4 linked regions of the Homo sapiens genome follow. The protein of the gene in region 1 purifies or fractionates together with the protein of each later gene. This does not show direct contact. Each region holds a gene or a part of one and is shown in the gene's direction. Other genes may lie near its edges.

Region 1 (7,306 bases):
AAACAGTTTTATTTATGCTTTAATGATTTCATCATCCTCATATTCAGAGAGCAGCATTATGTTTGAAATGTCTAAAATTAGGAAAAAAGAGATCTCTGCTTTTCAGTTAATCTCCTTGGAGGACTCAGAGTAGATCTGGGAGCTGAAGCAGTCCTGGACATTAGTCTTCTCCAAACACTGTTGTGTTTGCTGTCACAGTTTTGTTGTAGTTTTGCAGTATTTTCATTTATTTAACAGGTTTCCTTCCAAATTTCAAATATTTCTGTGATGAGTCATGTTGCCACCAGATGGCAGTGATAGCTCATGAATATGTTCCTATTCATGGATGTGGGTGTGGCTTATTTATAAAAATCTCACCCCTCGGTGAAGAGCTGCACTTAGACAACATGAATTCAAGAAGATAATTTTATGGAACACATTTTAAAATGAAATAAGCACCTGAAAAGTATTATAGTATAGTGGATAAAAGCACGGGCTCTGGACCAAGACTGCAAGGGAATGAATCCTGGCTCTTTCACCTTCTAGGCTTGCAACTTCAGAGAAGTCCCTTACCCTCCCTTTCAACATCTATAAAGTGGGGAAAATCGTAGCAACTACTCAACTTCCCGACAGGGTTGTTGTGAGGGTTAAAGGAGTTAATATAGAGAGAGTGCTTAGAATAATGCCTGGCAAGTAGTAAGCACAGCGTAAGTGTCATTATCATTATTATTAGGTATAATTTAGCATCTCTCAGTAATCGGTCATGATTACCTCCTTGTTCCAACTTCAACTTGATACGAAGACTTTAATTAGAATATTCCTGCCTGATTTGTCTGGAGATCCAGCTTATGGTCAGTAGTCCTTCTTAAAAGTTAGTCCTTAATTCAGGTTTATGGAACAAGCCCTTTCAGGCTTGCTTGTTTCAGCAACCAGCTCTAACGACCCTGGCAAGAGGGAGTCTGTTTTGTACTTGTTTTCACATTAATCAAAGAGAAGGCTGCAATGTACCTTCACGGTTCTCTTAATTAATTCCTGTAACTCAAGGTACCTCCTCAGCTCTCTTCCTGCAGCACTGAAGAAAGACCAGCAAGAGTGTTCTGAGCAAGCCTCAGAACACTCAGAGTAAATGACAAGAGTGTTCTTGTCTTGCCGTTGGTTTTGTTACTTTCTTTTTGATTAATGTGGAAACCAGTACAAAAAAGACTCACTGGAGTTTTCTCTAATCAGAGGGAGGAGGTTTCCCACTCTGCTCAGGAGTATAATATCATCCACTCTTCTCATTAACTTTTTATCAGAGATCTTGCTACCTAGTTGTAACTTGCAAGCGACATTCGGCACTCTTCTCTTGACAGTGCGCACTGCAGACCTCTCATATTTAGATCTGTTTTCTGAAAGAGCATGTGTCCTTTTCCTCAGACTACTCTAATCAAAATCTAATCAAGGTTTTTAAGCAGAAGAGATAAAGTGGCTCCATGGCACTGACTTAAGTATCCACCTTGGCCACTTGCCCCTGCTCCGCTCATTCTGTTCCATTCAGTAATAAAAATTTTCCCATCAGGCAATAAGAGGTCAGGTAGCACTTCTCACCGCTGGAACAAGGCTTTGGAGTTAGGGGTGTGGGTCCATTTGAAGGATGAAGCCAATTGTTTTGACTGATTTCAGTTTATCAGTCTGACCCACTCTAGCCTTGTGCTTATTTTCTAGCTCCTCGTCTTTGTGCTGCTGATTACATTCCTTTTTGCATTGTTTTCAGGTGGAGTTGGCATGAACTTAACAGCAGCAGATACTGTGATTTTTGTTGACAGTGACTTTAATCCTCAGAATGACTTGCAAGCAGCTGCCAGGGCTCATCGCATTGGCCAAAACAAGTAAGTGATTTTTTTCTGCTTCCTTGGCTTGCCCAGCAGCAGTTCTGGGTTGTGAAAAAGGTGAAGAATATAGTCCTGGTGACAGTCCCACACTGGGAGCTGAGAGACCACCAGGTTTTAGCTCATCTGTGCTATTGACTCCTAGGGTAGTATTGGGTGGGTCACATTATCAGTCCAGACTGACTTTATTAGAAGGAGTCAAATCAAACTGTGAAAGGATTAGAAGGAAACTTTAGAAGTCATTTAACTCATCCTTCTTGAGTTAGGGTCTGACTCAGTTAAAAAATGGGGTTATGGGGCTATGGAGCTAAGCTAAAAAAAAAAAAAAGAAAGATAGATGTTGCCCTTTGATCTGAGGATAATTTGATCTTCCAGATATTTTCCTTGGCTACAGATAAGGAATCCCAGTCATGGTTACCCCATCATTCTTTCTTTGACTGTCTGGAATGGTTCAGAGAGAATTTCAGGCGAGTTCTCTCTAACAAGTGCTCAGGACCAAATGAACCAATCTCCCTTTCATTGTACCCTGAATATGGTATTTGGTTTTGTTTGCTTTTAGATGTATTTACCTTGCATACTTTTGCCCAGCTTTGCACACCCTTATAGCACACTACCCTTGTTTGACTTATGTCCAGGTCTGTTAAAGTTATTCGGCTGATTGGTCGAGACACTGTGGAAGAAATAGTCTATAGGAAAGCAGCCTCCAAACTGCAGCTCACCAACATGATCATAGAAGGAGGCCATTTTACTCTGGGAGCCCAGAAACCCGCTGCCGATGCTGACCTCCAGGTATGATATGATATACTGTTCTTCACTTTGGAATATACCAATACCCTTTGTGGAGGAGAATGTAAATGAAAAGAACCAGCACTCACCCTCTCCCCAGCTACACATTTGTTCCTTGGCCTCCCTCACACCTGCCACAGTGCTGGCTGTGTGCAGGGTCTGTAGGAAGTAAGGATTAGTTCCAAGCCTCATCACTTCTTGGCTGTTTGGGTTTGAGCGGCTTTCTTAACTTCTTAGATCTACTCTTTTTGCATTTCTAAAAATAAAGACACCACAGGTTAGCTCAGAGGGCTGTTAAGAGAATTAGTTAAAATAAAGAACTCAATAACAATTAATTCTGTACTTCCACCTTAGTCCCAGAGCCTTTGATCAGTGACTTACATTACTTCATACTCAGAAGAGGGCGAATGAGATCAGGAATTCATAATTGTGCCTTAGAAAAAATGGGTGAAAGAACTAGAGGTAATTTATTTAAAGAAGGGAGTACTGGATGGGAGACAGACACTGGATTGGAAGATTTTAGAGCTCTCTTTTGGAAGAGGACTTAGAGTTACTCTGTAGCAGCCCTTGGGTTAAAATTAAAACTCATAATATTTCCTGGATGCTTTGTTTTTGCCCTAAGGATGAGGGGCTGGATGCAAAGAGACCAACTCCTAGGATACTAGAAAGATGCAGGTATGAAGGGAGTAATAAATGTCTGTCAAGGGCAGCATCAGTGGGAGAGTCTGGTGTGAGAAACATTGCAAAAGAAGGAAGGACAGGAGTTGGCTACTGTTTAGAGTTGGGTCTCAACAGTAGGGAGATAGAAAATTCAAAGATGGCTGTGAGGTTTTAGGCCCCTATGATGAGGAGAGAAGAAAGGAAAATAAGAAGTAGGGCAGAGTTTTAGGAAGATAAAGAGAATTTAGGCTTTAGTCAGAGTGTGCAGTAAAAATACAATATAAACAAACTATTGTTAGAGGCAGACTCAGACAAAAGGAAAGAATTTTATTTGTAAAAGTTTGCAAGATGGACTAGGATTGGAAAGGACTAGTCCATCAAAAAACATAAGTGTTTAAGAGAGAAAAAGTGACACAATATTAGAAGCAGAGTTACTAAGTTTGTAATTAGTCTGAAAAAACAGCAGTTTTCTTACATGGTTACCGTATCTGCAAAGGCCAGTGCATATCTTTACATATCAGTGTTGCAAAAGACAGGGATCCTGTTGTTTTTGTTAGGGAGTTAGTAATTACAGGAAAGGCTCAAGGTTTTATTAATTTTGGGACTAGAACTAGAAAGAGTAACACTGGGTTTGTTCTTTGTTTATCTTAGGGGGTAGGTGTGGCTTTTTTCTTTTTCTGACTTTCCTTGTGTTGCTGACTGTGTCACATGCATGCTTAATTAACCATAATGGTGCTAGGGCAGGCTGTACATTTTGTTTTCACACTAAGAGACAATTATAAATGTGAGATGAAAGCTTGAGAGAGAGGTAGAGGTACGCTGTAGATACCCTTAAATGCAGTTTTCCACAGAAAAATTATCCATAGAACCTTAAGAGAGAGAAGGTCACTGCTGGGCATAGTGAAGGGGTAAATGACAGAGCCTCACAAGGCCCGCATTCTCTTGTTAGAGGAGGAAGGATGTCATAGGTTGTTTGCACTCTCCCAGTGGAGGGAGCGCCAGGGGTCCAATGAGGGGTATCTTGTGATGTGGGCTGCTGGACACATCACTGTGAAAGATGTAGACATACCTCCACCCCATGGGGCCACAAACGAGTGGGAACATGGACTGCTGGCTGAGAGCGACTCTGTTGGACTTCTTGCCCAGCTCATGGTTATCGGAAAGTTACTTTCTGACTCTAATGTCTGATTTATCTCTTCCCCATGCAGATGCTATGAGTTATTTGTGGTTACCAAAAGCAAAGGTGATAACCCAGAGCCCTTGTCTAAAAAGAAAGCAGGGGATTTTTGTTTGTTTTTGTTTTTTGGGTTTTTTTTTTTTTTTTTTTTTGAGACAGAGTCTCGTTCTGTTGCCAGGCTGGAGTGCAGTGGCGCGATCTCAGCTCACTGCAACCTCTGCCTCCCGGGTTCAAGCAATTCTCCTGCCTCAGCCTCCTGAGTAGCTGGGACTACAGGCGCGCACCACCACGCCTAGCTAATTTTTGCATTTTTAGTAGAGACGGGGTTTCACCATGTTGGCCAGACTGGTCTTGATCTCCTGACCTTGTGATCCGTCCACCTCGGCCTCCTAAAGTGCTGGGATTACAGGCATGAGCCACTGCGCCTGGGGGTATTTTTTTTTTTTTAAATACCAAGAAACCAAAAGTAAAAGATGTGGTTCTGATTTGGTAAATCTAAGCAGTAGGTATGGAGTTCTGAAGTCCTGAAAGAAGGAAACAGGTTTTTTATCCTGCAGGGAGGACACAGTAGAAACAGGCAGGCAGATGCAGGTGTAGTGAACACTTATTGGATACTGTGTGCTGAGTGTTGTCTGAGGTGCTCTTTTCCAGTTGTTTCAGTAAATAAGAATAACAGCAGGATGAGATAGACACTATCTTTATCCCCATCTTAAGTAATTTGCCCAAGGTTATTCAGATTTAGGATTCCAATCCAAGCACTCTCTAACCTCCGAGCACATGCCCTTAATTACTGTAATATACAGCTTCTCATAAAAACACATGTAATTTTCTTAATGACTAAGACACATTGCAAGTGAGCAATAACAAGGGAGAGCCAGGAGGTGAGCATAAGTACAAGGGGGTGAAAGGGAGGGTCCCAGTATGGACCAATTCTTATCATAAATAGTTGGCTTCCTACTATTTTTGGTACCAGCTGCCAAAGCCAGTCATCCTGGTTATGTGTATGGAGGGTAAATATAATATATCTAGGTACATTCATGCTTAAGTGAGCTGTCTATTGTTTCTTCAAGCTGTTACAGAATACCTTAACATTTCCAAGTTACTCACAAAATAGACGATCTGGAGATAACCCAGTCTAAAAGGGCAAGATGAGAACAAGGGCCCAAGGTTTGAATCCACCTTGGGTCAGGATCTCAGAATTAGTGCTTACGGAGGTGCAAAGTTGGAAGTAGCAAGTGAAAGCCAGGAAAAATTATCTGTGCTTTCTGCATGGTTCCTACAGCCATAGGGAATAGGCTGAGAGTACTCCAGAGAGGGACGAGAGAAGAGAAGCAGGATAGTGCAATGCCAGAGGAACATCCAGAAAAATTCAAACTGAGAAAAGGCCTTCGGGTCTGGTGGTCAGAAGTTGTTACTGATCTTTGCCAAGGTGGTTTCGATAGACCACTGTGTTAGGAAAACAAATTGCCAAAGAAAAGGAGTCAGTTCATGATAGAGGTAAAGTTCCTAGTGTAGCCTTCCCTTTCTAAGGAGTCTGGCAGTGGAGAGGTTGGAAAGTAGCTAACAGGGTCTCTGATCTCAAGTGGCTGCTGGGAATGCTTATGAAAAAGTCAGTGAGAGGTGCTGTAGAAAATGCAGGAAGTTACTATTATTCTTCAAAAAAATTGGAGGCTTATACATTTTTTTTGTTTTGTTTTTATGCAGAATTGTCAAAGTCAATACCTCTGATAATCATTTATCACCTCTCTGCTTACCCATCATCCAACTATTAAATGGCCCTGGCTGTTACTATCTATGATGGGGAGAGCAGAAAGGCTGCCTGTTCATTAGAGAAGGACTGTGCCTGGTGTCGTTAATCCACTTAGCCAATCACTGATATCCTAATGTTTCTTTTCATGAGAATTTGCTGGACTTTTTTGTTTCCTCTATTCAAGTTGAGTGAGATACTCAAATTTGGTTTGGATAAACTGCTGGCCTCTGAGGGGAGCACCATGGATGAAATAGACCTGGAGTCCATCCTGGGAGAAACAAAAGATGGCCAGTGGGTCTCTGATGCCTTGCCTGCAGCAGAAGGAGGGAGCAGAGATCAAGAGGAAGGAAGTAAGTTGGAGGTTAGAGCAGAGCAAATGGCACAACCACCCCAAGCTAGAGCTCACGTCCCCATGGAAAGTTTTGGATGCTGCTCTCTGGGGCATCTTTTTTCTCCCTTACCCTATTGTCATTTGGGCACACTGTTTAAGACTTGCTTGATAAAAGAACGTTACCCAAACTAACTGGAAATTTGTGTGGCTCTTCCCTTGTAGCTGAACTGTGAACCAAAATCATAGTATTAATGTTTATGATAGTATCAATCTTAAGGCTTTGAATTTGTACCTTTTCTCCCTTGGTTGCAAACATCTTCTTCTTTATTAGTAAAGCCTACCATCCTTGGTATGATGCTTTGCACATAGCGATTCCTCTTCTAAACAGTAGAATTACTTGTTTTTAAAATTGCAGCTAACATTAAGCATTTATTTTGCGTTCATCAACAGTGCGGACTTTGTCATGTGCTTTTTCCATTTAATTTCTGTAATCCATGAGATGTAGGAGATGGTTTTGTCTTTCTCTTAATTTTCTTTCCTGAATTTGGTCAGCATTTGTCATTTTGTTCTTTTCTATTCTGAGCACTTAAATTTCCGATTTGAAGTAATTTTTCACATGGTAGCTTTGTAAAGGTATTCCCTGGCATCTTGTAGTTATTTTGAAATGACTTATTTTTCTGTACCAGCTGCAGCAGAGATTCAATATGGACTGGGGTGAGAGGTTTGGGAGTCTTACTAGGCTTCTTAATTCACCA
Region 2 (7,306 bases), on another chromosome or scaffold:
TTTTAACTGAATAGAAATTTCAAAAATATTAAGCCCTGTATCTAAGTAAATCGTGTCATTTTAGAGATGGGAAAATGGAGTCAGTCAAAAATCAACAGGAGACCTTAGAACGTACTATTGTTTTATGACTCCTGGAGGTTTGAGTCTAGATCCAGTCTTGCCTCTTATGTTTTAAGTGAGAGCTGCTAAGAGCAGAAAGGATTTGCAGCACCTTCTCTGTATTATTAGAATATCGCAGGTGGTAGTGGTGGTTCCTGGAAATGGGCTGCATGTTTCTTTGTCCTCTTATGCCTACTAGATCCTTCTTCAGGGATTGCCAGCCTTTTCATGATTACGATTATTTTTAACCAAGTAATATGATTAGTGCTGGTCATTGGGAGAAACAAAAGAGGTTATCTACCATCCCAGGGTTCCAGCTGCCTTGAGGGCTGAGTGGTACAATATCCAGGCATATCTGTATATCATTTGAGACCTACCTGTTGGGACATTCTGATATGAGTGGACCTTGACTTCATCTGCCTTTTTTCTTGAAGAATTCCATAAAATGTCAAAAATATTTGTTTTCAGAAGGAATACTCACATTCTTGTGAGCATACACCAACTGTCAGGATTGGGGTAGTGGAAGACTGACCCCAAAGAAATTTTATGCCTTTGAAGAAACTAATGAATTAAAGTGTCAGTGCTTCTCTTGAGTGGAGCTTTCTGGCTCTTTGCAGATTTTTATGGTGGCTTAGTTTCTTGTTCTGGGTTGTTCTATTAAGATTCAACAGCTATGTTCTGTGGCTCAGGAAGGATTTTAAAAAATACATAGTAGCTTATGCCTGTATAATCCCAGCTACTCCAGAGGCTGAGGTGGAAGGATTGCTTGAGTCCAGGAGTTCAAGACCAGCCTGGGCAACATAGTGAGAGAGAGCCCATTTCTTTAAAAAAAAAAAAAAAATTCAGTCTTCCATCAGTATCTGTCAGGGATTGCTTCCAGGACATACCTAGATACCTAAATCAAAGGATGCTCAAGTCTCTGATAACAAAATGGCATATTTGCATAGCCTATGTATATCCTCCCATTATTTTTTATTTCTAGATTACTTATAATACCGAATATAGTGTAAGTGCATGTAAATAATAGTTATACTTATTTTTTAGGGGGTAATGACATAGAAAAATGTTTGGCCATTTTAATTTTCAGTACACAGTTGAATCCACAGATAAGGAGAGCCAGCTGTATAGGCATTTCCTGTTATTTCAGTCAGGCAGTGGATTACTTCCACTCACACTCAGCTCTTAATAGCTCCTTTATCTCTGGAGTGGGATAGAGAAAGGTTTTTTTGTTTGTTTGTTTGTTTGTTTGTTTGTTTTTTGAGTTTCACTCTGTGGCTGAGGCTGGATTGCAATGGCACAATCACTGCTCACTGCAGCCTCAACCAAACCAGCCTCAGGTGATCTTCCCACCTCAGCCTCCTGAGTAGCTAGGACCACAGGTGCATGCCACAACACTTGACCAATTTTTATTATTATTATTATTGTTATTTATTTTATTGTATTTTTTGTGGAGACAGGGTTCCACCGTGTTGTCCCAGGCTGGTCTCAAACTCATGGGCTCAAGCGATCCGCCCACCTCGGCATCCCAAAGTGCTGAGATTGCAGGTGTAAGTCACTGCACCTGGCCAAGAAACTTTTTAATAATGCTGAGTAAGGAGGGTTAGATGGAAATAAATGCCCAGATGGATTGAGATTTTTTTTTAAATATTGCTTACTCAGCTTTTATAGTCTAGTTCTCTACTTTTTTTTTTTTTTTCTTTTTTTGAGACAGTCTGACTGTGCCACCCAGGCTGGAATGCAGTGAAGCATTCTCAGCTCACTGCAACCTCTGCCTCCCGGGATCAAGCAATTCTCGTGTCTCAGCCTCCTGAGTAGTTGAGATTACAGGTGTGTGCCACCATGCTCGGCTAATTGTTGTATTTTTCGTAGAGATGGGGTTTCACCATATTGGCCAGGCTGGTCTCTAACTCCTGGCCTCAAGCAATCCACCCACCCCAGCCTCCCAAAGTGCTGGGATTACAGATATGAGCCATCACACCCAGCCCTAGATCTCTACTTTTTATATTTACTTTTTATCCCTATTAACAACTACAGTGCCTGGCATATAGAAGTCACTCAGTGAACAGTGGTAACTGATTATATGGGTATTTAGCTACAACCAGACTGCAAAAATACTTTCTTTTTTTAAGGCAGTATCAGTTTGGTTCAAAGGAAGATAGTTGTTCTGCTGCTGCACTATTTCTCCAACTTTTATCATCCAGATACCACCTTCACAATTTTTGCAGATTCTTTGCCACCTGTTTTATATTTTATTTAACTCTCACTTTCAAAATTATTTTAATCAGTAATAGATATAGTTTTTTAAAAGTCATAGTTCTAATAAAAGCCTTAAAACAAAAAGTCACCTATCCCAGAGGCAACCACTTTGAGTTTTTTGTTTCTTTCATATTTCTAAATAATATCTATATATACTGCTATTTCTTGATTTGTGAATTTTTAACGGTTATTAACTTATGGTAAATCTGAATTTAACTTCTTTGTGTCATCACACTCATTCCAACTTCCCTACCTCCTGATACCTTAACATTTTTCTCCTGACACATTGATATGAAAAATTTTAAAGACAGAAAAGTTGAAAGAATTTTAAGTAAACCCTTTATACCCACCACCCCACACAGTTAACATTTTGTTGTACTTGCTTTATCACACATCCATCCTTCTTCATAACTTTTCCCCACAATTTTTAGTAAAATAAGTAGTTACTATTTACATTGTTTATGTTCATATAGATGTTTTCACTGCTGGGTGAAGTAATAAAGTATGATTAACTTTCCTTTTTTTCTACAGTTTTTTATTTTTCCTGGCATTAATGATTTCCTCAGTTTTTCTCCTTTAAAAAAAGTCTCCCTAGCCTTAATTTTTTCCAATAAATCTATTATAATGTTACCAGTCTTTTATTCTAAATTTCTCACACTCATAGAATTTTCTTCTGTTTCTTAAGAGCAACCTCACTCCCCACTTCCACCCCCCACATTATCCTGTTACCAGTCTTTTATTCTAAATTTCTCACACTCAGAATTTTATTCTGTTGCTTAAAAGCAACCTCACTCCCCACTTCCACCCCCCACATTATCCTGCTCCATCTGTATAGGTTACTCTTTAGGCCTGTTGAACCTCGGGACTTTGCAATATTGGGTCCCCTATATCCAAGAGCCTCTGCTTTGTTTTTTCTTTAGCACATTTTCTCTAAGAACTTCGTAAGAAAAGATGGGCCAGGCGCAGTGGTTCATTCACGCCTGTAATATCAGCATTTTGGGAGGCCGAGGTGGGCAGATCACTTAAGGCCAGGAGCTCAAGACTACCCTGGCCGACATGGCGAAACCCCATCTCTACTAAAAATACAGAAATTAACCAGGCATGGTGCCACATTCCTGTAATGCCAGCTACTTAGGAGGCTGAGGCACGAGAATCGCTTGAACCCAGGAGGCAGAGGCCACAGTGAGCTGAGATCGTGCCATTGCACTCCAACCTGGGCAACAGAGTGAGACTGTGTCTCAAAAAAAGAATAAATAAAAAGCTCACCACTAGCTCCACTGTAACCCCATGCAAAAAAAAAAAAAAGGATGCATAGAATATAAATGTCTTCAGCCCTTGCATGTCTTAAAGTGCTAGTTTGCCCTCACTTTTGGTTAATAATATAGTTAACCAAAGTCAACTCTATTGGCTTTGTTAATGCAGTAGGTATAAAATTCTGTGTTGAAAATCATTTTTTGCTCAGAATTTTGAAGCCATTATTTGGCGTCAAAGACTTCAGTGTTACTTTTGAGAAGGCTGATATGATTCTATTTCCAGTATACATACATAGCCTGTTCTCTCTGAAATTTAGAATCATCCCTTCTGTTTTGAAATTGCACAGCAATGTGCTTTGATATGTCTCTTTTGGGGAAATCCTTTTAGTCTCAAGCTCATATTCTTCAGTCCTAGGATGGTGCATTATTTGATCATTTTGGTCCCTGCATTTCCTTAGTGATGTCTTTTGTTTCTGAAATTCCTATTCAGTAAGGTTTAGACCTCTTTGGTTAAATCTGTTCATTGTTGATCTTTTTTTTTTTTTTTTTTTTCTTTTTCTTTCTTTGAGACAGTCTCACTGTCGCCCAGGCTGGAGTGCAGTGATGCAATCTCGGCTTACTGCAACCTCCCAGGTTCAAGAGATTCTCCTGCCTCAGCCTCCCGAGTAGCTGGGATTACAGGTGCCTACTACCATGCCTGGCTAATCCAGGTCTTCAAATGGCTAGTTATCTTGCTACTGAAATATGTATTCAAGTGCTTTTACTTAGCCAACCATCATAAATTCACTGCACACAGAAGTGCTTTATTTATAACTTCTTATTTCTTTACATAGAATATTAAAAGACAAATGCAAGGGTTTGGGATTTTATAATGGTAATCATTTTTACTTCATCAAGGACTTTTACGTGAAACTGGCCTTTTTTCCTGAGTGTGTAGTAATGGAGAAGTAGTTTGGCGCCACTACCTTGACTCATACAAAGGGACTAGCAGTTTTAAGTGCCATTACTATTTCACTATTGGTGAGAACTAATGGTAAAACTTTTTACCAACCTGAAGGAAAACATTTCTTACTGAAAATCAATGAGAAAAGGCATATAATTTCTATGTAGTGACTTCTTTGCATAATATATTTTGTTGTGGTAGAGAAATACAACAGAACACTCAGTTGCTATCATATATCCTTATTAACAAGCAGAAGCCTTAAAAATGTGGAAGAGTCTTATGTATGCATTTATCTTGACTTTATAGGGGAAGTCAGAATTATAGCTCAGAATGACCAGTGTTTTGGCTTTATAGAGCTATTGAAGAGTATCTGATGGTTGGAGAACTCACACATCTTGATTTCAAAACTTACTACAACGCTGTAGTAATCAAAACATCACGGTACTGGCCTAAGGATAGGCATATAGAAGAGTGGAATAAACGTGAAAATTCAGAAATAAATCCTCACATTTATGGTCATTTAATTTTTGACAGGGATGTCAAGATAATTCAATGAGAAATGAATAGTCTTTTCAACAAATGGTGTTGTAATAACTAGATATTCAATGTAAAAGAATGAAGTTGGGTTAGTCCTCAGACCATACAAAAAAATTAATTGAAAATGAATCATAGACCTAACTGTGACAGCTAAAGCTATGAAACCCTTGTAGAAGAAGTATAAAGTAAATCTGAGTGACCTTGAATTAGGCAGAACCTTCTTAGATATGACACCAAAAGCACAAGAAAATAGATAGGCCAGGCACAGTGGCTCACACCTGTGATCCTAGCATTTTGGGAGGCCAAGGCAGGAGGATCACTTGAGGTCAGGAGTTCAAGACCAGCCTGGCCAACATGGCAAAACCTAGTCTCTGCTAAAAATACAAAAATTAGCCAGGCATGGGGCAGTTGCCTGGAGTCCCAACTACTTGGGATGCTGAAGCACGAGAATTGCTTGAACCCAGGAGACGGAGGTTGCAGTGAGCCGAGATCGTGCCACTGCACTCCAGCCTGGGGGATAGAGTGAGACTCTGTCTCCAAAATAAAAAAGAAAATAGATAAATTGTACCACTTCAAAATTAGAAACTTTGGTGCTTCAAAGGACACTATCAAGAAAGTGAAAATAAAATGCACAGAATGGGAGAAAATGTCTGCAGATCCTGTGTCTAGAATATGAAAACTCTTACAGCTCAATAATAAAGCAACAACTCAGCTACAAAATGGCAGAGGATCTGAACAGGCATTTCTCCAAGAGGCATACAGTTGTCAGTAAACATATGAAATGATGCTCAGCGTCATTAGCTATCAGAGAAATGAAATCAAAACTACAGTGAGGGCCGGGCGTGGTGGCTCATGCCTGTAATCCCAGCACTTCAGGAGGCCAAGTGGGGGCGGATCACTTGAGGTCAGGAGTTCAAGACCAGCCTGGCCAACATGGTGAAACCTCGTCTCTACTAAGAAATATAAAAATTAGCTGGGCGTGGTGGTGCATACCTGAAGTCCCGCTACTTGGGAGGCTGAGGCACAAGAATCGCTTGAACCTAGGAGGCGGAGGTTGCAGTGAGCCAAGTTTGCACCACTGCACTCCAGCCTGGGTGATAGAGCGAGACTCTGTCTCAAAAGAAAAAAAAAAGCAGGATACTAATTTACACTCATTATATGGCTGTCATCAAAACGACATAAAAACTGTTGGTTAACGTGGAAAAATTGGAACCTTGATACATTCTTAGGAATGTGAAATAGTGACTAGTGCAGTCATGGTGACAAACAGTCTGATGATTCCTCGAAAAGTTACCATATGACCCAGCAGTTCATCTCCTAGGTATATGTATACCCAAGAGAAATGTCCATACAAAACATATTCAAATGTTCATGGCAACATTTTTTACAATAGCCAGAAAGTGAAAACCCAAGTGTCCTGCAGCTGATGAATGGATAGATAAAATGTGGTATATCTACACAATGAAATATTCAGCAGTAAAAGGGAATGAAGTGTTGATACGTGTCACAACACAGATGAGCCTTGAAAACAAGTGAAAGAAGCCAGACACAAAGGCCACATTTTATTTGATTCCATGTATATGAATTGTCCAGAATAGACAAATCCATAGAGACAGGTTAGTGGTTTGTCTAGGGCTGAGATGGAGATAGGGGAGTTGGGGAATGATTGTACTCAAGGACATAGAGATTAAAATGTTCCAAAATTGTGATGGTTGCATAATTCTGCTAAAAATCATTACATTGTATGCTTTTGAATTTTATGTGAATTCTGTCTCAATAAAACTTTTTTAAAAAATAAAGAACTCCCGTCTCTCCATCAGCCAGAAAGGACATTGGTATTGAGGTTGACAAAACCTACAAGGACAAAAACTACCATGGCTTCCAGTGCTTTCATGAAACCTCAGATATGTGGCCTTCTGGCCAGGCATCTGTGATTTCATGTTGTTGAAGTGTTCATTTTGCCCTGGGGTTACATCTCTCTATTAAAATTTCTGTGGCTGAACCAAAAAAGAAGGCATATGTAGATTTCTGCATAAATTATGACTCCTTGAAAGATTCTAAGATGAAGGTGGCTTATCTTTGAGAGTGCAAGATGATTTTGGAATATAAAAAATTAGTTTGGCCCAGGCATGGTGGCTTATGCCTGTAATTCCAGCACTTTGGGAGACCGAAGCAGGTGGATCACCTGAAGTTAGGAGTTCGAGACCAGCCTGACCCA
Region 3 (7,537 bases), on another chromosome or scaffold:
AAAGTTATAAACTTTAACAAAGACAAGTGTTAAGGATTCTTTAGAATAACAGTTTTCTTTTTAATATGGAGAAAACAAAAAGGAGCTGAAAGTCCTTTGTCTTGCTATCTAAGAATAGCACACTAGATGGTGCTATAAGGCTGTCAGAAAGAGAGTTTTACCAGGCTAGTGTGGCATTCTGATGGTAAAGTGTTCTGGAAACTTTCCACTTACTTTCAGCTCCTGAGAGCCGTTCCAGGTTTATATAAAATTAATGGGAATCTCAATTGGACAAACTTTAGCCCTGAGATGACATTAACTTAAAACTAAACCACAGGCTTAACACATTAAAAATAGTTTCACTATTTGACATTTCAATCTGATTCCACTGAAATAGAAATGTTAAAGTCATTAAAATGTCAATGTATTAATTTAAATGTATTGCTATTAATTTCACTTAGCTAGTCTTCCCATGAGCCTAGTTATAACCACCACTTAATGAATCTTTAAGTCAGTTTAAAGTGGCTTCCTGAAATTTTGAATTATCATTAAGCTGAACATACAAATCACTCTTACATTTAGTATTGCAAATATATTAACACAAATACATGAAACATTGTATTTGGAAATCACTCTATCAGTATATTATTTCTTATAAAAATAACATTTCATGATTTTTCCACATTACAATAAAACCAGAAAAATTTTACTAAAGTGCAAAACAAAAATAAAGCTTTACTTTTATAATAGTTCCATTTCATTTTCTTTTAAAAAGGTGAACAACAAAATGAACGAATAAAGATATCGCTTTTGCAACCTAAGAGTCATTTAAGTTTTAAACTTTCAAAGACCTGAGATTTGTGATTTTTTTTCCCCTTATCTTTCCAGTTCTGCTTCTAGAATTTCCCCCCATGTATCTGCATCCATTGGGTACATGATTTTTTCTGGTAGGCTAATGGGAGAACAAATGTTGCTGTATCTGCCACTTAGCCATTCGTGTTTCACTTTACTCTTCTGGTAATTCCTCAGCAGTATCACCTGAAAGAGGTAAATCACCGTTAAAAAAGACTGTAGTAGGTGGTTGGTTAGTGAATGTGTTTAAAGCAAGAGAAGCAGATTGACAGGGCTGAAAAAAAGAGTATTTACATTTATATATACGTACATTAATAAATGTATGTGTCTGTGTACGTGTGTGTATGTATATGTGTATTTATACTGAGTGGCATAAGGTGAAGTGGAAAGAAGGAGCTAATTCCCTTCTGGTTAACGCAGGAAAATTCCCGAATTTAGAATTTTAAAAATGCAAAAGGATAAATGAAAGATAGTGTGGAAACAGTGTGGTTAGCAGGAAAAGACTAATAACTTTAACTCATTTCCAAGAGTCAACACACTGTCTGTGTTATTCTGCATATGTAATTCTGACTCCTCCAAGCAGAAGTTAGAATTGGCGCAAACCTGCTATCATAACGCTGTCAACAACACTGCAGATCGCAAAGATTAAACTTACCCTCCAGGAATAACCACTTTCTAGATCATCATCTATTTCTCTTCGGCACACAGCTCTTACAGTCATGCAGTGAGGTTTCCATAAAGAGTCACTGTTTCTTATTGTGTCATTCCAGCTCCTGCATGTCAATGAAGCCCTGCACAGACTCCGAATGTCCAGCTGACTGAAAATTTTAAAAGTGATTTCTGCAGGCAGCAGTTCAAAAAAGTTGTTTTGACTCTCATTTTTTTCCTTCTCAGCATCCACAGAGTTCGCTTCTGTGTGAGAAACTCTTAAATTATTGTTTCTCTTGGAGTTTTTATGCATAGCTTAATGTTTTAAGTTATCCTCATATGTAACCTAAAAGGCAAAATTTAAACATGCTCAGTCTCCAAATAGGAGTATAAATCCTACTTTAAGTCAGATGCTTTTTGGGTATAATTTAAGAACTCTTTCTTGACTTTAGCTTCTCAATCTGTAAAATGGGCCAATGCTGCCGCTCTCCTGAAAGTTCTTGCAAGGATTAACAGTGATAGTGGGTAAAATATCTAGTCTTGCTACATCTGAATTGCACATGGGAGGCACCCAACATGTTAGTTTCACTCTCACCCAGGCTGGAGTGCAGATGTGTCATAATAGCTCACTGCAGCCTCAAACTCCAGCCTCAAGCGATTCTCTTGACTCAGCGTACCCCGCCCCTCTTTAAAAAAAAAAAAAAGAAAAAAAAAAAAACAGAAAACCAAAAACTGTTTTACGGAGAAATGGTTCTTGCTATGTTGTCCAGGCTGGTCTTGAACTCTTGTCCTCAAGCAATCCTTCTGCCTCAGCCTCCCAGAGTGCTGGGATGACAGGTATGAGCCACCATACCCGGTACTTTTGTACCTTTGAAAATGTATATGAGTCAATCCTATTAAACTCCTGAATACTTGTTGTACATGGGAACTGATGCCTCATCATTAATTTGCAATTTGTGACTTAATCATAAACTTGCTGGACTTCTAGTTGTTTATATAAGAATTTTATCTACTTGTATCTTATAGGTAGGTAGGTGCTTACATTTGACACAACTACTATCTGAAATGGACAAGAAGATGAGATCTGGATTATGAAACAAAGTCTCAAATATTCAACTCAGTCATAAGAGTAGTGTTTTAGAAATGGCCCCTTGAAGCTATCCTACATGCATAATTACAAGCTAAGGATAATAGTCACTGAAGACATCAAGCAACAGTGAGTGACAACTGTAAACAATGTTTAGAACTCAGCTAGGTACAGTATGTGACTCTTTGAAGCCCAGATTTAAAGCTCAGTTTCAGCTAATTTACCTAAGGTGAATGGTGTAGGCTTCCCAAATCAGTTGAAAGCATGACTGGGTACATCACCATCCTTGAGTTACTTTTGTATATAAAGACAGCTTGTATTCACTTAAAATCAGTTTATTCCATTTTGCACTTCCTTTTATAACGGGGGTTGGTTGTGCAAGAGGAGAGGTTTGAGGTAAATACTTCTTTTAACTCAGCTGAACACAAATCTCTTTTCTAGACGAGCTACTCAGCTATGTTTTCGGACTTGCCAAGACCACGGTGGCTCCCATTCATGATCCAGATTAGCTGTGGTGGCTGGAACTGCAGTCTGTGTTCAACAGAGGTCTTCTTCTTGAGGGTTAGGAGAAGTAAGAAAGCAAACGTAAAAACGGGTGAGTCAAGAGCAAGTTTTTGCCATGCACCTTGGCCCCTCCCACCACCAATACAAACCAAAGCCAAACCACAACGTTCTTGAAAAGAATCTCACATTAGGAAAACGTTACAGTGCATTTAAACGTTACAGTGTGTTTATCCACTTCTCCCAGGATCTTACTGGGAGAATAAAATGCGTCCCCTTGTGGAATTCCTGTAACGGGAATGAAGGCTTTTGAATTTCACAGCAGGGGATACCTTTGCGAGTTTCTAAAATCCCACTAGGAATCTTTCTTCTACGTCCAGGTTCGCCTGGATGCCTGGAAACGACCCCTCTTCTGCCCTTTCTCCTTTATGAACTGAGCTTTCCTGAATTCTCTCTCAAGTGAAGTAAAAGCTCGTCCCCCTTTCAACTATCATTCGGAGGGATAGATCGGCGGCAGCGCAGTCGGAGGGGCGGGGAGCCCCACTCCGTCCAAATCCCGCGGGTCAGGGCTAATCACCCCACGTCCCGTCTGAGCCACCCTCCTTGTGTCCCGCGCGGGTTGCAGCTGCTGGAACCCAAGAACACAGGGCACTGACAAGTGACAACAACCGTCAGCGTTGACTGTCACTGCGGCTCCAGGCCGCGGAGGGAAGGCTGAGCTTGCGTCCAGGCCGCGTCCCCGGGAGCGTAGACACCTAAGCCAACGGGAACGGAAGACCCTTCTACCTACTAGGCCGCGGTAGCTTCTCCTCCCGCGATTTAAATCCACCGGAATTCGAATCCTTCCCCATAGCTCTTCGCATCCCGCCCACCTGAGTCCCGCCCTGCTCAGAACTCGCGCAGGCGCCGAGAGGGGCGCGCAGTGCCTTTGGGGATTGGTAGTTTTTTCCAGGGCGTCTCCGCTCGGGAAAGGAAGTGAAGAAAGCCACCAGGACTACAAGGCCCGGCGTCCTCCAAGATGGGAGGGAGGTGAAAAGGGTGTTGGGGAATAAGCCGGGGTTTTTAAACAGTAGTTTTGAGGCGGCGAGACTGGGGAATCCCCGGTTGCGTCATTAGTAGGCGTGGAGGGGCGGGACTCGTGAAGCTGCGCTGGGGCCGGGCTCTGAGAGGACCGGCGCAGCCGCGGGGAGCCTTTGAGGCCCTCCCTCGGTGTTTTTTCCCAGGGCGTGGGCTTGCCCCGCGCGTGTCTGTGGAGGGCGGAAACAGCGGAGGGGCCAGTCTCCTGGCGAAGGGGCCTAATCCTTGCCCGCCATGTCCGGGGGCTTCGAGCTGCAGCCGCGGGACGGCGGTCCCCGGGTGGCCCTGGCGCCCGGGGAGACGGTGATCGGCCGCGGGCCGCTGCTGGGAGTAAGTGTGGGCGGGGGCTTAGCGGACCCCGAGAGCCGTGGAGTTCCGCGCCGGCTCCTGAAGACCGGCCCTAGTCCTGGCCGGTTTCCCCACCGCACTGGTCCGCCGGTCCGGATTTTAGAAGTTTGGGGCCGCACGTTTTTCAGTTACCTTTAAGCCAATTCACAAACATTTCTTTATGTTGCTTTTAAAACACTGACTGTATTACCATTATTATCTTATCCAGGGATTGGCAAACTAGTGCCTGGGGGCCAAATCCAGCCTATGTTTGTATGGCCCCATGAACTAAGAATGATTCTTAAATTCTGAAATGTAAAATGTAAACAAAAAATCTACTAATTTTTCAGGGGGAATAGTTGCTCCAAGGGTTGAGGGTATTGCGGCTTGTCTTGTAAAGCCTAAAATATTTACAGTAGTGTCTGGTCCTTTACAGAAAAGTTTGCCAAACTGTGATATTACGTCTTCTAGGCTAATTTCTTTTAACCTTTGGTCTCCTTTGCAGAGCTGTGTGGACCTTATTTATTTATATTATTTATTATTTCCAGTAAAATGAGTAGCTAACCCTTCATAAGTAATGTGTATAGCGTTCGTGTCATTGGTCTAAGGAGACATTACCTATACCAACATCTTTAACTGTCTCAAGACCGTATCAGTTAGCTATTTTTATTATCCTCATTGTTCAGATGAGAAAATTGAGCCATACATACATTATTTAAAGTCCATACATAAGCTTTTGGACACATAATGCCACAAAGCTAAATATTCTCTACCTTCTTTGGGAGAGGTTTAGGAATAAGAACATTTGCATATTGCATTCTGGAATTCTATAGATCTCTTAAGTACATCTAGTTTTCTATTTTGTTCTTTAACATTCAACATTTCTTGTTTGGTGCTCACTGTGTAGAACATTTTGCAGATTCTAGCACTGTGGGGCATACAAAGATGAATGGAACATGGGTCCCTACCCTTTAGGAGTTTTCTCTTGGGACCGGGGAGACACCTGTGTCAGTGAGCTAACACCAAGGAGTAAGGAGTGTGTACTGTTGTCCTGGTTAACTTCCAGAGTCTAAATGGAACCATTGGTACTTGCCTTAGGTCCCTTCTGGGAGCAGGGAAAGGAGTGGTAGTTTAAGATTGTATTATGGAAGCTGGTCCTAAAGGGGTGTGTGTGTGTGTGTGTGTGTGTGTGTGTGTTGTGTGTTGTGTGTTGTGTACATGCACATGTGCATGTGGTAAGGTTATTGAGGAAGTAGATATTCAATTGCTGTTCATTTTTTTACTGGACAAGTGATTATTTAAATATTTAACATCATTTCTATTTTTTTCATCGTTTGTTGGCCTATACAAACACTGGAAGGAACTGTCTGGAGGCTTTATTTTTCTTTTAAATTCGTAGGTTTGAAACTTAAGAGTATGTGCTTAATCTAGTAATCATATGTCTGGTGACTAACGAGTTTTGACTTGCTTAAGAAATTGTCACCAGTAGAGTACTGTGGGTCTGGTTAAAAGGTGGATGAATTTTAGGGCCGTGGTTTAGAAACATGGCAACAGATTGCAGACCGTTTCATTATTTGTAGCTTGTTCTTTGTGTTGTCGACTTGCTAATGTGAGATGAGCCTATTTGGTATCTGTTTTTAAAAATGGTAAGGAGTGAAAGCTGGGCAATTACCTGGTCAAGATTTTGCTTTTCCTTTTGAAATAACATTCAGGGATGAGATTCTTTTGCCAAGGTTGGCGTGTATCAGAAGTGGTTATGAATGACATCCTAAGTGTGTTAAAGGAAAAATTTGGAGAACAAACAAATCGCCTTGTAGTTTTTTCGATTTTGGAGCTGACAGATGCACTCGATTCTTCTCTGCACTGGTTAAAACACAACATAAGGGCTCCTGTTTCCAACAACAGCAATTCCAGTGAGATTTATTTTTGTATTGTGAGAGAGCGAAGACTGAGTTCTAAGTGGAAAACTCAGTAAGTTCATTGTAAATTGGAATCGGAAACGATTAATATAAATAAGGATGATTTTGAACTTTCTTAATTGGGCATGTTTTTCTGAGACAAGCTTCACAAACCTTGATGGCCACACAAACATAAAAGTTTATAATCTGACTGTGTAAAATAGTCTTGGTAGTAAAACAGTTTGACAATGAGAATGGTTTTGTATTTTTATGGTGGTAGGAAAACACAACAGAGAAACCTGTCACAGAGAACAAAGGACAATGAAATTTAATCTTTCTTGTTCCCTTTGCTTTCATGTGAGTCATCAGAGAACCCCAGGTCTTTGTTTACTAGATTTTGATTCTGCTCCATGATTGGCATCAGTTAGAAGGTTTTACAGCAGGATTAATCTTCAGAGAACTTGAGTTAAAACAGCCAATCCAAAAGATTACATATTGTGTGATTCCATTTATATAACATCATTGAAATTGCGAAATTGCAAAATTTCAAAAATGGAGAACAGATTAGTGGTTGCCAAAGGTTAAAAAATTAGGCAGCAGGGCAGAAGGGAATGGATATGGCTATAAAATAGCAACATGAGGGATATTTGTGGTGATAGAAATGTGCTTTGTCTGGACTGTGTCAGTATCAATATCTTAGGTTGATATATTGTACTATAGTTTTGTAAGACGTTACCATTAGGGGAAACTGGATAAATGGTACAAGAGATATTTCTATATTATATCTTTCAACTACATGTGAATCTACCATTATCTTAAGAAATTTAATTTAAAAGGGTTTTACAGTACGACATGTCAAGCACTGTTAGGCCAAAGTATTTGCTTTATGGGTTTTAATTAAAGCTGTTACACTCTTAAATGAAATCTACTATTTCTGATTTCAGATTTTTCTTATTTTGTTTTGACAGCAGGGATTATATGACACATTTCTTTATGATCTATTTTCCTCCTAGGAAACAAGATAGCAAAAGATATCTAGTGATACTTTCTCAATGTAGATGTAATTAAATTGACTGCTTTGATTAAAAGGAGAAGAGTCCTCAGTTGGGGGAACAGGGAAGGTCATAGGCTTCAGTATAGACTCTTCAGGTGGCATCAGTTCACCACT
Region 4 (7,722 bases), on another chromosome or scaffold:
CAACACCCCACTCCTCAACCCGGCAAAGCCGACCCCTCTCCTCTCAACCACCCAGCCCACAGAAACAGCCTCCTCCGGTCTGCACCTCTCATGAGAGTGCAGAGAAACCAAGCACATCCCGCTCCTGTGCCCTCCTGAGAAGCCCGACCTGCCTCAGACTTCCTGAGCTGACCCTTGACAGGCCACGGGCACAGCCCCACCACCCCCAGCCGAGCCCTGTGTGCAGCCTAAGCCCGCCTCCACCTCCCTGCGCGGGCCGCCGCCTCCACCTCAAACGCTGCTCCCTTTGCTTCTCCTGGCAAACCCCCGCCCCTTTCCCAATCTTCCCTCGGGTCACACATGGCTGAGCCAAGATGCAGCTTTCCACTGACTGTGTTTCTACGCAGGTTGAGCAAATGGACAGAAGTCAAGTGGGCCGCACACACGCACTCTGGACCCAGCTTCTGATTGGTGCACCTGCTGTAAACACATCTGAGAGTGGGCCGCACACACGCACTGTGGACCCAGCTTCTGATTTGTGCACCTGCTGTAAACACATCTGAGAGTGGGCCGCACACACGCGCTGTGGACCCAGCTTCTGATTTGTGCACCTGCTGTAAACACATCTGAGAGTGGGCCGCACACACACACTGTGGACTCAGCTCCTGATTGGTGCACCTGTTGTGAACACATCTGAGAACCCCCCAAGTGTCCAGGCCGCAGGGTGGACTGCTCTCTAGCCCCAACCAAGAGCCCCTCAGCAGGCTGAGAAGGGAGGCCCCCAGCCTGAAGCTCAGCCCAGCAGCCCGGGCCCACGGGGTGGTGAACACGCACCTCAAGAACCTGCCAGACCATGGAGCTGGACGAAGGCCCCCCAGACCACGCCAAGAGCACCTGGGGGAGAAAAAACATCACTCAGGGCACCGCACCTCCAACACAGGCAGACACCCCACCTCGTGGACATCTAGGACATCGAGTCTGTCCTCAAAGGCCAAGGAGGAGCTGGCGGGCTGCAGCAGGCCAGGCTGCCTGTGGGAGGGACAAGCAGGGACCTCGAGGGGCCAGGCTGCTCAGTCAGACCCCCAGGACCCAGACGCTACCTTCTCGCCTGGAAAGATGAGCCGGTTCTTGCCCAGCATGGCTCTGAACTTGTGGACGTAGAAGGCCTTGAAACAGTCCCTGCAACACAGACCTGAGATGAGGGAACCGCCTGCTACCCGCACAGTGAGCAGCGTCCTGAGGCGCTGCCAGGTGACGACGTCCTTTGCCAATCTCCATCTTTAAAAGCAGCATCTTCACATCCAGGCTCTGTCCAGAGACTGGTGAAAGGGGCGGGGTTGGCCCCTCTGGCAGTGGCTTCCTCAGGGTGAACACGAGGCTCACCGGCCCCTCCCACGACCAGGTACAAACTGCACAGCCACGGAGGCTGCATCCAGCAAACGAGGGCAGAGCCCCGGCACCCCTCCCCACAGGCGCTCAGAAGGGCCCAGCTGGTGGAGTGGACAGACTTAGGCACGTACAGGGCAAGGCCAACCCAGACCCCATAAAAAAAGACCCACCACATACAGACACCACCTCTTGGAGGTGAAACGTGGAAATGGAGCGGGCCACAGCGAGGACCCACCATGCAGAGACACCACCTCTTTGGGGTGAAGTGCGGAAATGGGGTGGGCCACAGCGAGGGCTCAGTATCCTGGGGCCCCAGAGCTGGCATCTTTAGTGTGCTGGGCTCAACTGGGCCAGGAATGGCTAAGAGGCTCACTCACAGAGTGGCCTGGGCTCCTCCCCTAACCCCACAGAATCAGAACTTCCAGGCCTGGGAACTGCATTTTTAAGAGACAGGGTCTCGATGTGTCACCCAGGTTGGAGTGCAGTGCCACAGTTATAGCTCACTGCAGCCTCAAACTCCTCGATTCATGTGATCCTTCTGCCTCAGCCACCCAGGTAGATAGGACTACAGGTTACAGATATATGCCACCATGCCTAGCTAATTGTTGTATTTTTTGTAGAGACAAGGTCTCACTTTGTTGCCCAGACTGGTCTCAAACTCCTGGCCTTAAGTGACCCTCCTGCCTGGGCCTCCCAGAGTGCTGAGATTCCAGGTATGAGCCACTGCGCCCAGCTGTAATCTTTGTTCATAATAAACTTTCCAGCCATCTGACTCTGGCTCACTACGTCAGGGGTTCTTGGCCCTGGCTGTATGTTAGAATTGCACAAACCAATTAAGTCAAATTGTCTAGGGGTGAGGCCTAGGAGTCTGCATTTTAAAGCTCTCCTGCAATCCTGGCAGGCAGGGTGAAGAGCAGCACCCGGTACAGAGCGGACAATGCCACTGCAAGAGTCACCCTGCACCTGGGGCTCTAAGTCTCTTCCTTCCTGTCAGACACACTTGATGTGCACAGCAGTCCCTCCCTACGTTGAATGGATACCACGTACAAGAGGCCGAATGACCCCCCTGTGGTTCCTTTACAGACAGTAAAGCAAGTCTGTGTTTAACAGCAAGATGCCAGGTGAGGGACTGCAGGTAACTGGCAAGTATCAAGGCTGGGACATGGGAAGTGACCCCCAGGACCCAGCTTTGGGCGTGGGGAGTCTCATACAAGGAGACACAGGTGCTGGGCTTCACCTCCGCACTGTGGACCAGGAGAGCCTCTGCGCCCTACACCACCAGCTGGGATTCAAGCGTGGTGGGTCCACGTGTACATGCTGCGTCTGGGCTCCTGAAACCACGCTGTCCCCTGTGGGTCAGGGAAGGCCAAGGTTTCTCCCACGTGCTGACCTGAATGATCCCTGGGGATCCCAGCTCGATGTAGATTCCTAAGGCCTTCCCCTAGAGAGCCGGCTCCCCACTGTTCCTTGGGACCAGCAAGCACAGCAAAAGCCCTTCTGGCCACAAGGGCCTAGCATACAGCCACAGCAGCCTCTCCTCAGTGAATTCTGCCGGCAGCCTGGTGTTCTTGGCAATTTCAGATGCTCCTGGGTGGTTAAAGAAGTACCTATCTTGGCCAGGTGTGGTGGCTCATGCCTGTAATCCCAGCACTTTGGGAGGCCGAGGCAGGTGGATCACTTGAGGTCAGGAGTTCGAAACCAGCCTGGCCAACATGGTGAAACCCTGTCTCTACTAAAAATACAAAAACAATTGGCCGGGCATGATGGCAGGCACCTGTAATCCCAGCTACTCAGGAGGCTGAGGCAGGAGAATCACTTGAACCCAGGAGGTAAAGGTTGCAGTGAGCTGGGATCATGCACTCCAGCTGTTGCACTCCAGCCTGGGTGACAGAGGGAGACTCCATCTCAAAAAAAACAACAACAACAACAAAAAAACCACGCACCACCACTGGGAATTAAGAGGGCTAAAAGGAGAGAGACCTGGTCCTCCCTTCAGGGAGCTATGAGTCTAGTGGAAACAACTGAACAATACAATGGCTACAAGCCAAGAAAGACATGACAAGCGCCTGGGGGAAAGCTAGAGGTCTTCCAAGCCTCTATCCTGCCACAGATGAAACAAGCATCTCACACGAGATTAAAAACTTTCACCCAGACCATCTGCCAAGTTCCCAAGATGCTCTGATCCGCCCCTAGATGTATTCCAGCTGCCCCCAAACGCCTGGTCCTCCTACAGCTTATCCCAGTCTAGACACCACGGCCCCACTTCCAACTGTCCCCATAAGTTCCATCAGAAACCTCATCAGGGGATCTGTGGCTAGCTCATGGGAAACTTTCCCAAGCAGGAAACCAATGCTTTCGCCTCCACTTCAACACCAGGGGCACGAGGGACCCCATCAGGAGCAGGAATAAAGTAAGTACATGTTTTTAAAAAGAATTAACAAAGCATCACAAGTTGCGGCTATCCTGTCTGCTAGCGAGGCCATGTTTGCCAGGGTCTCAGCCACCTCCAGGCCTCACCTGCAGAAGGCATCTCCGGCTCGTATCACCACAACGGGCTGCGCTTCCTTGCACTTCACACACTTCTGCTCACGGCTTTGGAGATGGGAGGGGGGAGAAGAGAGAAACACAGATCACATCTTCCCCACGCCTAGTGGGCTTTGGGGAGACAGCTCCTGTTTCTCACCCTGAGTTGGGTCAGAGAAAGGCACCTCGGTACACACACAAACCCAGGCTTGTGTTCTGTCCAAACTTCAAGAAAAACAAAGGCTCTGGGGGGATGTTTAGCCTAGAAAAGCCGGCTCAGGGGGCACATAAAGGCCGCTTTTCAGTCTCCCAAGGCTGACACGGGGAGGCGAGACAGCTTCACGGCACCAGTTCTCTCCGAATAAGGACAGCACTGTCAGCGGCAGAGCCGTCCCCAGTGGCTGCTAGGATGAGAGGCGCGAGCCAGTGGAGTAAGTCCCCTTCTAGGTGGCCGTCACCGCTTGACAGGCATTCCCCGAGTGCTAGGGAGCGAGGTCCCGCTCTCCACGCGGGGCTTCCCGGAGCAAGCCCGGCCGGGACCCTTCGGGGCAGGAGTGCGGCGGGAAGGCGAGGGGCGGCCTGGCGGGTCCGGCCGCCAGCTCTTACCTGGGCCGCGGCGCCGGGGGCGGCTCCTCAGGCGCCGGCTCCCCGTAGTCCTCGCCCACCTGACACATGGGCACGCCGGGTCCCGTCGCAGACTGTGGCGGCGACAGCGCGAGGGCGCGCCCCGATGACGTCGGAGTGGCGCCGTGACGGCCGCGAAGCCCGGCTGGGGGCGGCGCCCTACGATGACGTCAGCGCGGCGCAGTAGCGGCTGTGACTAGCGGGCCGGCCCGGGCCAGGACAGCGGGCGGCGGGCGGCGCGGGCCTGGCCCCGGGATGGCTATGTTCCGCAGCCTGGTGGCCTCGGCTCAGCAGCGGCAGCCGCCGGCCGGGCCGGCGGGCGGCGACAGCGGCCTGGAGGCGCAGTACACCTGCCCCATCTGCCTGGAGGTCTATCACCGGCCCGTGGCCATCGGCAGCTGCGGCCACACGTGAGCGCGCCCGCCCAGGGGCCGCGGGGAGGGGGCCGTGCCCCGCCGCGGGAGGGGTCGCGAGGCCGGCGGCCGCCCCGGTGCAGCTCCGGACTGGGCGCGCGGGGACTCGGGGCGCCGGGGCCTCGGGGCGCGTGGGGTCCGGGTTTCCCTGTGCCGCGCCGCCTCTGCCCTCTGGGCGCGTTCATCCCCCGCCCAGCCTCCTTCGCGCCAGCCGCAGGCGCCCGGTCCGACTGCTGCTTCGGTTCACCGGGCGACCTGCGGCCCTGCCCAAGCTCGGGGTCCCCGGCGGCTGCGGCGGGCGCTCCGGTACTCAGAGGGCAGCAGGTGCCACCGCTCCGCCAGTGGTGGTGGATTTGGGCTTGTGCGGCTGGAATGGGCAGTTGTAAATAAATAACTTGTAGTTTTTGCTATCAACTCTTGTTCGGACCCGCTGTCTGCCTGTTTTGACTACAGAGGAAAGGAGTTCCCTAAAGTTTAGAGGGGCTTGTTTGGAGTCTGATGTTCTTAGTTTTGTTTGAAGGAGAACTTGAGTCACACCGATCACTGAGTAGCCAGGCAGGCTGGTCCACAGAGGAGCAGACACTGACCACCTTGCTGGGGTTTCCAGCTGCACCAGGGCTCACAGCCGGCTCCTCCAGGGTGTTTCAGGAACAGAAACTGGAGGACGTGGCTCTCCTGGCGGGGAGCTGTGCTCAAGTATTCTGGAGCTGCCAGCCCCGTTGGGAGGAAGCCTAGATCAGTGTCTGCTCCCTCCTAAGTGCTGAATAATACAGCTCTTGAGCAAAATCAGCAGTGGCAGGGGAGAGAGAGAGCAGGAGGGCTTCCCCGCAGACATCCAAGCTGCTGAGGTGGTGGAGTGGAGGGGGGTGCACCCAGACTGGTAGGAGGCTCTAGAACATTTTGCAAGCAAAGTCAGCTGACTTCAGGGGCTCCTGGTACAGAGGGAGCTGGGACTGCTAGGTGGATGTGTGCTGGTCACCCACGGAGGTGGCAGGGCCAGTGTCAGGATGCAGAGCTGCCTTCATTACCTGTGTCAGGCAGCACAGGCGCCTGCCCACGCTGGGACAGCTCTACCTACTTCTCTTGTGAGGCTGCTACAGGCTCTGCCCCTGCTCCTCCATCTCACTTAGCCGTGACATTTTGGGGGGGCAGCCTCTGAACGGGAATATTTTTTTTTGAGACAGAGTCTTGCTCTTGTCACCCAGCCTGGAGTGCAGTGGCGCCATCTCGGCTCACCGCAACCTCCATCTCCTGGGTTCAAGTGATCCTCCTGCCTCAGCCTCCAGAGTAGCTGGGATTACAGGCACCCGCCACCACGCCCGGCTAATTGCTGTATTTTTAGTAGACAAGGGGTTTCACCATGTTGGCCAGGCTGGTCTCGAACTCCTGACCTCCGGTGACCTGCCCGTCTCAGCCTCCCAAAGTGCTGGGATGACAGGCGTGAGCCACCGCGCCTGGCAGGACTTCCTTCTTGTGAGCAGGTAGCGGGTGTTTGAAGGTGTGTTCCGCACCTTCTCATCTGTTACTGAGCGCTGTGAGGCTTGACTTAGGCCTTGTTTTAGAAAAGCCTCCCGTAGGCTTTGGGTGCCAACACCTTCACCGTGTGGTCGGCCACAGCATCTCCACTTTCCTAACCTGCACAAATTGGTCTTTGCCCTTCTTTTTCAAATATGTCTTTTCCTAAAATGTAGTTTCCATAACACAGAATGCAGAACCACATGGAATTGTGGAGCATCTTTCCTATAAAACTCCCCTCTGCCATGCTTTTCTTGGTAGAATGACGACCATCCTAGTCTCACCGCGGGTCCTGCAAGAGCTTTTCACACAGCCTTTGCCTTTCAAAGATTTTTCTCCCCGACTTTTCCTGCTGGCTTTTGTTTTCTGGCTGTTCTCTCTCTGCTTCTAACTTTGTTTCTTGTTGGTGTTGCTAAGGCATGCATGCAAATGACCACAGAAAGTTTAAAGGCTCTTCAGGTTCCCTTCGGAAGTTTGTTGCTGGTCTGGTTCTGTCCCCTCCGCAAGCTCCCCAACCAGAGCAACTTCCTCCTCCAGGGTAGATCTCTCATGGCAAGAGTATCCCAGTGTGGGGGCATGCACCCTGCTCTAGCCCTCGCGCAGGAGGCCCCCTGGGGGCCCAGCAGGAGCTGTTCTCAGCCAGGGGACAGTCTGAGCAGTGAGCCACCTCTGTAACCAGAAGCCTGTGGGCCAGGACACGCGTGATCACGAACCTGCCTGGAAGGGCTGTGTGAGCAGCCTCCACTCGTGCAGGACAGCTGTGGGGCTTGCTGAGGGTGCTGGCCTGCCAGCCAGGCAGATCCCTGAGGCACGGGCCGTCCCAGCTTCTCAGCTTGTGCAGCGGCCAGTGTGGGAGACACATTGGCAGTCCCGGGTGCCTGCTGGGAGGGCCAGTGCGCGATCGCCCCTCCCTTTGTAAGGCTGTCGACGCCCCCACACCCATCGCCCTCAGCCACTTCCTTCAGCTGAGAAGCTGCTCAGCACCAGCCCCTGGGTGGGCGCAGACAGGAACTTCCTGTGGGGGAAGCGGGCACTACTCCCGGCTGCTGGCTCTCTGAACACCAGGCTGGCAGTCACTGGAAACTAGGCCGATAGAGCACCCACCCTGTGGGTGCCTCGTTCTGCCTCCTGCTCCTCGGGCCCAGCCGCCCTGCCAGTCGGGCTGGGTTCCCTCTTGTGTCTTTCCTGAGTCCTTCCGGGGAGGACGAGGCTGTCTTCCTCCCAGCCAACCTTCTGGGCACCTTTCCTCTCTTCCCAAGCTCTGCCTGGGACCCTTTTC

What was found.
Region 2: the proteins of CHD1L (region 1) and SUPT16H purify together in Homo sapiens (affinity purification with mass spectrometry; 3 studies listed by BioGRID and IntAct, with this or other methods). This does not show direct contact.
Region 3: the proteins of CHD1L (region 1) and APLF purify together in Homo sapiens (affinity purification with mass spectrometry; 6 studies listed by BioGRID and IntAct, with this or other methods). This does not show direct contact.
Region 4: the proteins of CHD1L (region 1) and RNF166 purify together in Homo sapiens (affinity purification with mass spectrometry; 3 studies listed by BioGRID and IntAct, with this or other methods). This does not show direct contact.

Annotation. Positions count from the first base shown.
Region 1 is NC_000001.11:147,273,622-147,280,927, forward strand, and holds part of CHD1L (chromodomain-helicase-DNA-binding protein 1-like), read left to right. Parts: intron 1-1,732; coding exon 1,733-1,847; intron 1,848-2,482; coding exon 2,483-2,636; intron 2,637-6,404; coding exon 6,405-6,570; intron 6,571-7,306. UniProt on the Homo sapiens protein: ATP-dependent chromatin remodeler that mediates chromatin-remodeling following DNA damage.
Region 2 is NC_000014.9:21,373,931-21,381,236, reverse strand, and holds part of SUPT16H (FACT complex subunit SPT16), read left to right. Parts: intron 1-7,306. UniProt on the Homo sapiens protein: Component of the FACT complex, a general chromatin factor that acts to reorganize nucleosomes. The FACT complex is involved in multiple processes that require DNA as a template such as mRNA elongation, DNA replication and DNA repair.
Region 3 is NC_000002.12:68,463,354-68,470,890, forward strand, and holds the start of APLF (aprataxin and PNK-like factor), read left to right. Parts: upstream 1-4,231; 5' UTR 4,232-4,378; coding exon 4,379-4,474; intron 4,475-7,537. Other genes in the region: FBXO48 (F-box only protein 48), read right to left, coding at 856-1,017, 1,487-1,792. UniProt on the Homo sapiens protein: Histone chaperone involved in single-strand and double-strand DNA break repair.
Region 4 is NC_000016.10:88,703,374-88,711,095, reverse strand, and holds the start of RNF166 (E3 ubiquitin-protein ligase RNF166), read left to right. Parts: upstream 1-4,687; 5' UTR 4,688-4,770; coding exon 4,771-4,925; intron 4,926-7,514; exon of another isoform or gene 7,515-7,722. Other genes in the region: CTU2 (cytoplasmic tRNA 2-thiolation protein 2), read right to left, coding at 814-873, 1,080-1,158, 3,886-3,960, 4,498-4,565. UniProt on the Homo sapiens protein: E3 ubiquitin-protein ligase that promotes the ubiquitination of different substrates. In turn, participates in different biological processes including interferon production or autophagy.